Homo sapiens: one gene and its partners. The protein of the gene in region 1 purifies or fractionates together with the protein of each later gene. This does not show direct contact. Each region holds a gene or a part of one and is shown in the gene's direction. Other genes may lie near its edges.

Evidence for each region.
Region 2: the proteins of ARHGAP22 (region 1) and KDM6A purify together in Homo sapiens (affinity purification with mass spectrometry; 2 studies listed by BioGRID and IntAct, with this or other methods). This does not show direct contact.
Region 3: the proteins of ARHGAP22 (region 1) and RBM6 purify together in Homo sapiens (affinity purification with mass spectrometry, with the first as the bait; one large-scale study listed by BioGRID). This does not show direct contact.

The regions. Positions count from the first base shown.
Region 1 is NC_000010.11:48,448,007-48,451,657, reverse strand, and holds part of ARHGAP22 (rho GTPase-activating protein 22), read left to right. Parts: intron 1-50; coding exon of another isoform or gene 51-304; exon of another isoform or gene 305-517; coding exon 518-1,397; intron 1,398-3,651.
Region 2 is NC_000023.11:44,876,084-44,879,734, forward strand, and holds part of KDM6A (lysine-specific demethylase 6A), read left to right. Parts: intron 1-3,651. UniProt on the Homo sapiens protein: Histone demethylase that specifically demethylates 'Lys-27' of histone H3, thereby playing a central role in histone code. Demethylates trimethylated and dimethylated but not monomethylated H3 'Lys-27'.
Region 3 is NC_000003.12:49,943,098-49,946,748, forward strand, and holds part of RBM6 (RNA-binding protein 6), read left to right. Parts: intron 1-3,651. UniProt on the Homo sapiens protein: Specifically binds poly(G) RNA homopolymers in vitro.

The DNA.
Region 1 (3,651 bases):
GTGGGCGGGGTGCATTGTGTGTGCAATTGTATGTGTGTGCCCCCACACAGGAAAGATGGCTCTATTCCCTGTCCCAGAGCCCTATGCTCCCAGAGTGTGGACATTCAGGCATGGCAGTTGTCAGCAGCACAGAGGGGTGACGTGGGGCAGCCGAGAGAGTTCTGGCATCTCAGGTCCCAGGTTCCAGTTCCAACCTGCCACCTGCTCACCGTGCAGCCTTGGTGCCTGCTTCCTCACCCCACCCCAGCTGGAGGGCGTGAGCGCAGGCACAGTGCTTCCTCCCTGCTTGCGGCTCTGTGCCTGAGGAAGGCGGTTCTGCGGCCCCATCCTGCTGTCCTGCCTGGAGTTGGAGGGTGTGTGGTCCTTTCCTCTGGGCGGATGAAGGCTCCCTTGAGGGGCGGCCTGGCTCTGGGGACAGGGCCAGCTCCCACGAAGCTGCAGCTTCTCCATGACTGGCAGAGCGAGCCTGGGCCGAGTGGCTGGCAGCAAGGCCCTTCTCCGCCTCTCTTCCCGGCAGGCACTTCCCTCGTCCAGCACCTGATGACCGTCCTCATCCGCAAACACAGCCAGCTCTTCACGGCACCGGTCCCGGAAGGGCCCACCTCCCCGCGCGGGGGCCTGCAATGCGCAGTGGGGTGGGGCTCCGAGGAGGTCACCAGGGACAGCCAAGGAGAGCCCGGCGGCCCCGGCCTGCCCGCGCACAGGACCTCTTCCCTGGACGGGGCGGCCGTGGCGGTGCTCTCCAGAACAGCCCCCACGGGGCCGGGGAGCCGGTGCAGCCCTGGGAAGAAGGTGCAGACCCTGCCCAGTTGGAAGTCCTCCTTCCGGCAGCCGAGGTCCCTATCGGGAAGCCCGAAGGGGGGCGGCTCATCCCTGGAGGTGCCCATCATCTCCTCCGGCGGGAACTGGCTTATGAACGGGCTGTCCTCCCTGCGCGGACACCGCCGGGCCTCGTCGGGAGACCGGCTCAAGGACTCGGGCTCCGTGCAGAGACTCTCCACCTACGACAATGTGCCCGCGCCGGGCCTGGTCCCCGGCATACCCAGCGTGGCCAGTATGGCGTGGTCCGGGGCCTCGTCCAGCGAGTCGTCGGTGGGGGGCTCACTCAGCAGCTGCACGGCCTGCCGCGCCAGCGACTCGTCTGCCCGCAGTTCCCTGCACACCGACTGGGCCCTGGAGCCCTCCCCGCTCCCCAGCAGCAGCGAGGACCCCAAGTCCCTGGACCTGGACCACAGCATGGACGAGGCGGGCGCGGGTGCCAGCAACAGCGAGCCCAGCGAGCCGGACAGCCCCACCCGGGAACACGCGCGCCGCTCCGAGGCCTTACAGGGGCTGGTCACTGAGCTCAGGGCCGAGCTGTGCCGCCAGCGGACTGAGTACGAGAGGAGTGTGAAAAGGTAACTTGCTGCCCCGTGGAGCCTCCTGTGACGGGGCGGAGCCTGCAGGGAGAGCCGTGCTCTTGGCACATGGGCGTCGGCCCCTAACCTCTGGGCCGCTGGCCCTGGAAGCCAGCCTCAGAGAGGGGAATCCTAGCTCTGGGAAAGCCCTAGGACTGGCAGACTTGGCACACAGTCAGTCTGGCACGCAGTCAGTCTGGCACGCAGTCAGCGCTGCAGAGGCCTGCTGACTCCACGCAAGTGGGAATGCCTGCCCAGCCTGCCGGGGACCTTTGCTGCAGGGGTGGAAACAGAGTCAGTGTGCAGTCTGCAGCCAGGGAGGGGGCGGCCCCTGGAGGCAGGTCCCAGGCTTGTCCCAGTACAAGGGCTCATAGCCTGGATGCTGAGTGCCAGGAAGTGCCCAGGCCCCAGGTCAGCCAGGCTGGAAGTGAGGACCCCTTCCTTGATGGGATCAGAATCCAGTTTCCCTGCTGAACCAAGCCCTCGTGTCCGCCCTTGTCACAGGATGGTTGTGCTGCACCCTGAGGCTTACAATCTCACTAACAGAGGGCCAGAGTTCCAGCCTCCCATGAGGACCGGGGTTGCCCTCTGCAGTGAGGAACCTCAGCTCCTGGAGACCAGGTTCTCCAGCGCAGGGCGTTTCCCTCAGCATCTCAGACTCCTTGGTCCCTCTGGCTGCAGGTCCCCGTTAGCTGGCCGACCTGTTCACCTGGGTCCCACCCACTAGCAGGGAATTCCTTTATCCATTAGAGGCAGTGGATGGAGGTGGAAGGCATTCCTGCTGCCCACTCTGAGCCTGTGATTTCCACTGGGAGCTGGAATGGCAGCCCTTGCCCTTTTGCTCTGCTGACAGCTGTTCCCTGGGTGATGGAGAGTGCCAGGCATGTACAGGCACCATGTCTGCAAAAGGAAGAGAAGGAGAGGGACCTTGAGGGCAGAGGCCTCTGCCATGGGGGAAGTCACAGCAGGCAGTGCCTGAGCCAGGGCTGGAAGGACCCATAGGATGGAGCCGAGAAAGGAAATAGCATCAGTAGAACCCAAGGGCCTCCAGAAATATAGTAGAAGATGCTATCTGCTGCAGATGAGCTCACAGACCAAACTACAGGGTACATGGGAACTCTTACCATACAGAAGGCTGTCCATGCAGAAGGCTGGGCTGGACCAGCTGCGCCAGTTGTGTGCTGAGTGCCTGGAGCTCCTCTGGCCTGCTCTGAGGCCTGGTTTCTCAAGGGAGATGCAGGGCTCTTTGACTCCAGGTCAGACTACTTGGATTCTAGTCCCAGCTCCACCAGGGATTGGCTGAGTGTCCCTGGCAGGATCTTTGGGCCCCAGTGACCTCACCCATTTGTCCTGAGTATTAAGTGACTCACAGTGGATGAGAGCGCTCGGGAAACTTTGCTGCTCGCATTGACTCCTGCCTGGTGGCTGGAGGTAAGATGAGGTTCCCAGAGGAAAAGGGATAGCAGTGGTAGCCCTTGTGGAGGGACTGTACTCGCTAGCAGAGTGGTCTGGGTCGTTGTCTTGGTTAGAGGGAGGGTCTAGAGTGAGGAAGGTCTCTGAGCACAGGAAGGAAGGTGAGGGCATTAGCACCTGTCCTGTCCAGCAGGTGATTGGGGAATGTGTGTCCTGTTCTCTGGAAGTATGGGCCATCGGGTGGGGGGTGGGGTGAGGCTGGCCTTGTCCTGGCTCCCAGGACTCTGGTCAGAGCCCCTCCCCAGGGCCCTGCTGGGAAGTCAGCCTTCCTTCGTGCATTCCCAAAAGAGAACCTGTTTTCTGTGAAGTACCAGATGCTGTGCAGGTGGCCACAGTTGGGGTGAAAACTGATCAAAATCTCTGTCCCCATTCTTATTTGGGTTGCAGGGAGACAAAGACCATAAGCACGATACATTTTTAAAAATACACGGTGTGTTAAAAGGGAGATGAAGGAGGGGAACATAGAGCAGCATGGAGGGGAGCGGAGAGGAGCCTCAGGGTAGAAGGTTGGAGGGCCCTGGGAAGGAGACCCCAGAGCTGCAGCCAGCACTGACCCCAAGACCCCTGTAGTGGGGGAGAGTCAGGGGCTGGGGACTGGAGATGTGTGGGGAGGGGGCAATGGGTGGGGCCTTTTGGCCTGGGCAATGCTCTGGTTTTTCGTGGAGTGAGATGAGAATGAAGTGAGAAGCCGCTGGAGGGTCTTGGCACATTGGGCACTTTGACAGGTGCACCTGGGTGCCATGCCGAGCAGAGCTTGCCAGGGGACAAGGGCAGAACAGAC
Region 2 (3,651 bases), on another chromosome or scaffold:
TGATGAACGATTAAGCAGTTTGTTAAACTAAAGAAAAAAAAATCTTCACTGCTTCAGACTCAGTGCTTGTGAGGTGTCCTACCTGCTTAGGACAAGATTCATCAGCCTTAACATTAAAATAAAACCTTCTGTAATATGTGCTTGCAACCGCATATAGTTCTTGGTTGCATCTTTGTGAGCCTGAACATACCAGTGGGGTGTGTAATGTAAAGCCTGACATTATATAACTTCGCACCCTCTGTTTGAATTGGGTTCTGAATGAAGTGAATGAGCTGGAGTCCTGCTGTAGGAAGTCTTGAATTATTTAGTTTCATCCTTCTTTTAACAGTCCTCGAAGCAGTATTTTTTTGTTTTTTATTTTTATTTTTTGTGGAATGTTGAGCTATGTTGGTTTCAGAATTCTTATTCCCTGAAAGTCTTAAGAGTTGGCTTTCCTTTACTGGGCAGGTTTAGGCTACTTACCTGAGGGCAGATAATGGAATTGAATAACTCCCAGAATTCCCTTTTTAGCTTTGATTTTTGTCCTGCCATGCCCCCCCACCCCCAACCCCCCGGCCCCAATTTAGTCTGCACTTTGTATAACGTTTTCCTTTCTGGCAGAAATTTAGCTATTACTACTTGTTTTCAAAAATTCTTATTCCTATGTATATTATTGGATTTTCTTTCAAGTTTTTAAAATTCACATTTGTATGTTAAAAAAAACTCTTGACCTAAAAGCTTTAGAAAGTTGAAAGCATTAAATATGTCTCTTACTTGTCCCTTAACATATGTACGTATACATATATACACACGTGTACATATACATATATACACACGTATACATATACGTATACACACATATACATATACGCATATACACACGTATACGTATATACGCACGTATATGAATACGTATATACACGTATACGCATACGTATATACACACGTATACGTGTATACATATATACATGTATATACATACGTATGTATATGCGTATACACATATATGTATATATATGCATATGCGTATGTATACGTATGTACATATCTATATGTGTATTCCTTTTCCAGGTGTGCAGTTTATTCAAACCACTGATTTCTCATCGTCTCCCGAATGTTTTTGTCAGATTCAGTTATATTAGAGTCATTGAAAGAATTTTTTGTTTGTAGGATGGCCATTTGATATACAATGCCTGGGGTTTTGGATTAAAAAAATAAGGTAGTTAATACAATGTATTATTTTTTGGTAATGTCTTTAAGGTTGTAAACAGCTAGAGCCTGCGTAATTAGAGTTCTTGTGATATAGGGTGATCTTGAACAGTGCTCTTGAATGCTGACCCTTAATCTTCTGGTAATGTAATAATTCAAGATTCTTATTTTTAAAATTTCAGTGGAGTTATCGAAAACTAAGCAAAATATTTTAACAGAAATTAACTTGTGACTTTTTTAGTACATTTTTGAAAACCTTTTGGGTTTTTTTTTTTTTAAGTAGGGTAAGGATTTGAGTTAAAGTAGAATATATACGAATATATACCATAAATGTAGTAAGTTTAAATATAGTAGTACTACCAAGTATAGTTATAGTAATAATGCTAGGGGACTGGGGAATCTTATCTGCGTCAGGGAACTATTGCTAAAATACACAGTTTTGAACAAAGTATCTTATTTTTAAGTTTTTCTTAAATACTCTTATTGGAAATTTTTTTGGTAATTCTATTAGTAGAAAGATTATACAAAATACTTAGAAGTTATAGATTGTATATCACTTAAAAATGTATGTGCTTTTTTCCGTAGGACATATTAGCATTAAAACAGTTGGTGTTTTAAATTTTTTTGATAATAGAAGTAGTTTAAGATCCATTGAAACATATTTTCTTAAATTTGGTTTGCTGGCGTGTTTGGTAGGGGAAATTATTAGGTCAGTTCTAGAGGTGGCTTTTTTAAATTGTAATATTTGGATGTTGATTAAAAACATTCTCATTTATGTGTGTTTTTTGTTTGCTGGCACTTAAAGGCATACAGGTTGAGTATCCTTTATCCAAAATGCTTGGAACCAGATGTGTTTTGGATTTGGGATTTTTTTGGGTTTCAGAATATTTGCAGAATACATACCAGTTGAGCATCCCTAATCTGAAAATCTGAATTCCAAAATGCTCCAATGAGCATTTCCTTTGAGTGTCATGTTGGTACCCAAAAAGTTTTAGATTTTGGATTTTCAGATTAGGGATGCTCAACCTGTAAATTCATTTCCAGTGCTAAAGATGGCTAGTGTTTTGGTTAGAAAAGTCATGAGAGCCTGTCTCAAAAAACAAAAACAAACAAAAAAAGAAAGTAGCCATGGAAATAATGTCATGCTTTGTGTTTTAAAGAGTTTTCTAGTTTGGAAGATTGTCTTCTGAACACTTGCAGTCTTAATTTTTTACGTGGACAAAGTCTTATATACTTGGTATTTCCTAAAGTTTTGATTTGTGCCTGGTAATAAAGATATACTAAGATTATAGAACATATTTGCATATTTGGTCACAAATTAGAACTGCAGCAATACATAAACAGGCACTTTTAAAGTTCTGGTTTTCTTTTTCAGTAAATAGTTCTTTCTGTCGAATCAATTACAAATTGAAATAACTAGAGAGCATTTGACTGCCACCTCTAGATACTTTTTGTTTTTTTTTTTAATTTGAGACAGTCTCACACTATCCCCCAGGCTGGAGTGCAGTAGAGTGATCTCGGCTCACTGCAACCTCGGTCTTCCAGGTTCAAGTGATTCTTATGCCTCAGCCTCTTGCGTAGCTGGGATTACAGGTGCCTGCCACCACACCCGGCTAATTTTTGTGTTTTTATTAGAGGTGGGGTTTCACCGTGTTGGCCAGACTGGTCTCAAACTCCTGACCTCACGTGATCAGCCCACCATGGCCTCCTAAAGTGCTGGCTTTGCAGGTGTGAGCCGCCGCACCTGGCCAATATCTTAAGCTGTTAAGAAAAACTGCCTGAGAGATGAATTTTTGTGACTTAGGTGAAGTGATAGGTCATGCACTTTAAACCAAAATGAAAGTTCATTGCTTGGCTAGCTGCAGAGTAAGTCTTTTTCTGACTTAAATTATGTAACATTTAGTTTTTGTTTACATAGTACCAATATTCTGCATCTTTGAAAGGATTTCTGTTAAGTTTATTTTTACTTTGAAATTCATTGTGATGCGTTGAACTCTTTGAAATTGATGTTAATGACTGCTAACACTGCATTATTAATAATATTTTTGAAATGTGTTATCTAGAGAGCTAATTTATGTTAAGAAAACACTACCAGCTTGTCTAAGAATTGAAATGGTGGTTAGGCTGTTTAGGACTCACATGTATTATTTGTAGATTAGTTAATTAATAAAGTTTATTTAATGAATGCATAATTGACAGTCTTAAGTACTCATATTGAAACTTCACATATAATTTTATCAGTTTTCCACATTGGTTTGTAAATTATCGTGACAGTAAATTAAAACAGTATATTAATGTACACTATGTGCAAGCCTTCTATGTAGATAGTATGAAGATAGCATAGATATTTCTTGCCCGTGTTGAACTTAAATTCTTTAAGAGGGGTGAGATAAGTTTAAGGGTGACTAACACAGGACCATCTTTGGGAGAAGAAAAATGTGAAATATTCTGAAAGTTTATGAG
Region 3 (3,651 bases), on another chromosome or scaffold:
TTAATCCGTTGTGTGTGTACACTACATTTTGTTTATTAATTCATTTGTAGCAGACACTTGGGTTGCTTCTGCCTTTTGACTATTGTAAATAATGATGCTGTGATCATTGGTGTACAAATATCTCTTTGAGTCCCTGCTTTGAATTCTTTTGGGTATATACCCAGAAGGGAAATTGCTATATGGTAATTATTATTATTATTAATTATTTTATTTATTTTTTTTTGAGACAGGGTCTTGCTCTGTTGCCCAGGCTGGAGTTCAGTGGCACAGTCATGGCTCACTGCAGCCTCGAACTCGAGCTCAAGCAGTCATCCCGCCTCAGCTTCCTGAGTAGCTGGGACTACAGGCATGGGCTGCCACAACCAGCTAATTTTTTTGTTTAATTTTTATTTTTTGTGATGAAGTCTTGCCTTGTTGTCTAGGGTGGTCTCGAACTCCTGAGTTCAAGTGATCCTCCTGTCTTGGCCTCCCGAAGTGCTGGCATTACAGGCATGAGCCACCACATCTGGCCCATAATTTTTTTATTTTAATTTTTTTGTGGAGACAGGGTCTCCCTATGTTGCCTATGCTGGTCTCAAACTCCTGGCCTCAAGCCATTTTCCCTCCTTGGCCTCTCAAGGTACTGGTATTACAGGCATGAGCCACTGCACCCAGTTGATACTTGGTTATTATATGTTTAGCTTTTTGAGGACCCACCATACTGTTTTCCTCAATGGCTGCATCGTTTTACATTCCCACCAGTAATACACAAGGGTTCCAATTTTCCCACATCCTCCCCAACACTTATTTTCTGTTTTTCCTTTTTTGATAAATTTGTGTGTGTATATGTGGTTTTTTATTTGTGTGTTTTGATGATAGCCACCCTAATGGGTGTGAAGTGGTATCTCGTTGTGTTTTCTTGGTTTTTGCTTGTTTGTACCTTTTTACCCATTTTTAAGTGTGCTACTTAGTAGTAGTAAGTACATTCTTCTTTTTGTGCAACCATAATAAAAATCCAGCTTCAGAACTTTTTTCATCTTCCCAAACTGAGTTTCTGTACCCATTGAATAGTAACTCCCTATTCTCTCCTCCCCTGACAATCACCATTCTGCTTTCTGTCTCTATGAATTTGACTACTCTAGGTATCTCATGTAAGTGGAATCATATAATATTTGATCTTTTGTGTATGGCTTATTTTACTTAGCATAATATCTTCAGGATTCATCCATCTTGTAGTATGTATCAGAATTTTATTCCTTTTTAAGGCTGAGTAATATTCCATTATACATATATACCACATTTTGTTTATCCATTTATCTATTGATGGACATTTGGGTTGTTTCCACCTTTTTGCTCTTGTGAATATAATGGTGCTATGAATATCAGTGTACAAATATCTTTTTTTTTTTTTTTTTTGTGAGACAGTATCGCTCTTGTCACCCAGGCTGGAGTGCAGTGGCGCGACCTTGGCTCACTGCAACCTCTGCCTCCTGGGTTCAAGGCATTCTCCTGCCTCAGCCTCCCGAGTAGCTGGGATTACAGATGTGCGCCACCATGCCTAGCTAATTTTTTTATTTTTAGTAGAGAAGGAGTTTCGCCATGTTGGGCAGGCTGGTCTTGAACTTCTGACCTCAGGTGATCAACCTGCCTCGGCCTCCCAAAGTGGTGGAATTACAGGTGTCAGCCACCGCGCCCAGCCACAAATATCAAGTCTTTACTTTCATTTCTTTTGGGAATATATATACTCAGAAATGGAATCGACAATTGACAGAGCAAATGGTAATTCTATGTGTAATTTTTTTTTAAATTTTTTTTTTTGAGACGGATTCTTGCTCTGTCGCCCAGGCTGGAGTGCAGTGGCGTGATCTCGGCTCACTCCAAGCTCCGCCTCCTGGGTTCTTGCCATTCTCCTGCCTCAGCCTCCCGAGTAGCTGGGACTACAGCATCCGCCACCACGCCCGGCTAATTTTTTGTATTTTTAGTAGAGACGGGGTTTCACCGTGTTAGCCAGGATAGTCTCCATCTCCTGACCTCATGATCTGCCCGCCTTGGCCTCCCAAAGTGCTGGGATTACAGGCGTGAGCCACCGCGCCCGGCCAATTTTTTTTTTTTTTTTTTTTAGACAGGGTCTTGCTCTGTTGTCCAGGCTGGAGTGCAGTGGTGCAGTCACAGTTCTCTGCAGCCCTGACCTTCTCAGTTCAAGCTATCCTCTCACCTCACCCTCTTAAGTAGCTGAGACTACAGGTGCATGCCACCATGCCTAACTAATTTTTTTATTTTTTTGTAGCTGTGGGATTTCGCTAGGTTGCCCAGGCTTTATGTATCATTTTTTGAGGAACTGCCTTACTGTTTTCCACACTGGTTGCACCATTTTACATTCTGTTAGCAGTGTACAAAGGTTTTGTTATAGACTGAATTGTGTCCCCCTGAAAATTCACGTGTTGAAGCCCTAAGCCCCAGTGTGACTGTATTTGGAAATAGGACCTTTACAGAGAAATTAAAAAGTTAGAAGATATCATAAGGGGCTGGGCGCGGGTGGCTCATGCCTGTAATCCCAGCACTTTGGGAGGCTGAGGCAGGCGGATCACAAGGTCAGGAGATCGAGACCATCCTGGCCAACACGGTGAAACCCCGTCTCTACTAAAAATACAAAACATTAACCGGGCGTGGCGGCATGCACCTGTAGTCCCAGCTGCTGGGGAGGCTGGGGCAGGAGAATGGCGTGAACCCGGGAGGCACAGCTTGCAGTGAGCCAAAATCGCGCCACTGCACTCCAGCCTGGGCGACAGAGCGAGACTCCATCTCAAAAAAAAAAAAAAAAAAAAAAAAAGAAGATATAAGGATGAGACCTTAATCCAGCAGGACTGCTGTCTTCGTAAGAAAAGGACTGGATACCAGGAGTGCGTGTACAGAGAGAAAAAGCTGCATGAGGACAGAGGTAGAAGGGGGCTGCCTGCAAGCCAAGGAGAGAGACCTCACCTAAAACAAACCTTGCTGACACCTTGATCTTGGACTCCCAGCCTCCAGAGCTGTGAGAATAATTTCTGTGGCTTAAGCCTTCCACTCCATGGTATTTTGTTATGGCAGTCCTAGCATACTGTGTAATATAGGTTTCAATTCAGTTTCTCTGCATCCTCCACATCCTGGCCAACACTTGTTATTTTCTTTCTTTTTTTTTTTTGGAGACAGATTCTCGCTCTGTCACGCAGGCTGGAGTGCAGTGGCACAATCTTGGCTCACTGCAACCTCCACCTCCCGGGTTCAAGCGATTCTCCTGCCTCAGCCTCCCGAGTAACTGGGATTACAGGCAGCCGCCACCGTGCCCAGCTAATTTTTGCATTTTAGTTGAGATGGTGTTTCTCCATGTTGGCCAGGCTGGTCTTGAACTCCTGACGTCAGGTGACCCGCCAGCCTTGGCCTCCCAAAGTGTTGGGATTATAAGCATGAGCCACCGCGCCTGGCATTTTCTTTTTTTTTGAGACAGAGTCTCACTCTGTTGCCCAGGCCGGAGTGAAGTGGCATGATCTCGGCTCACTGCAACCTCTGCCTCCCAGATTGAAGCAATTCTTGTGCCTCAGCCTCCCGGGTAGCTGGGATTACAGGCGTGTGCCACCACGCCTGGCTAATTTTTGTATTTTAGTAGAGACAGGGTTTCACCATATTAGCCAGGCT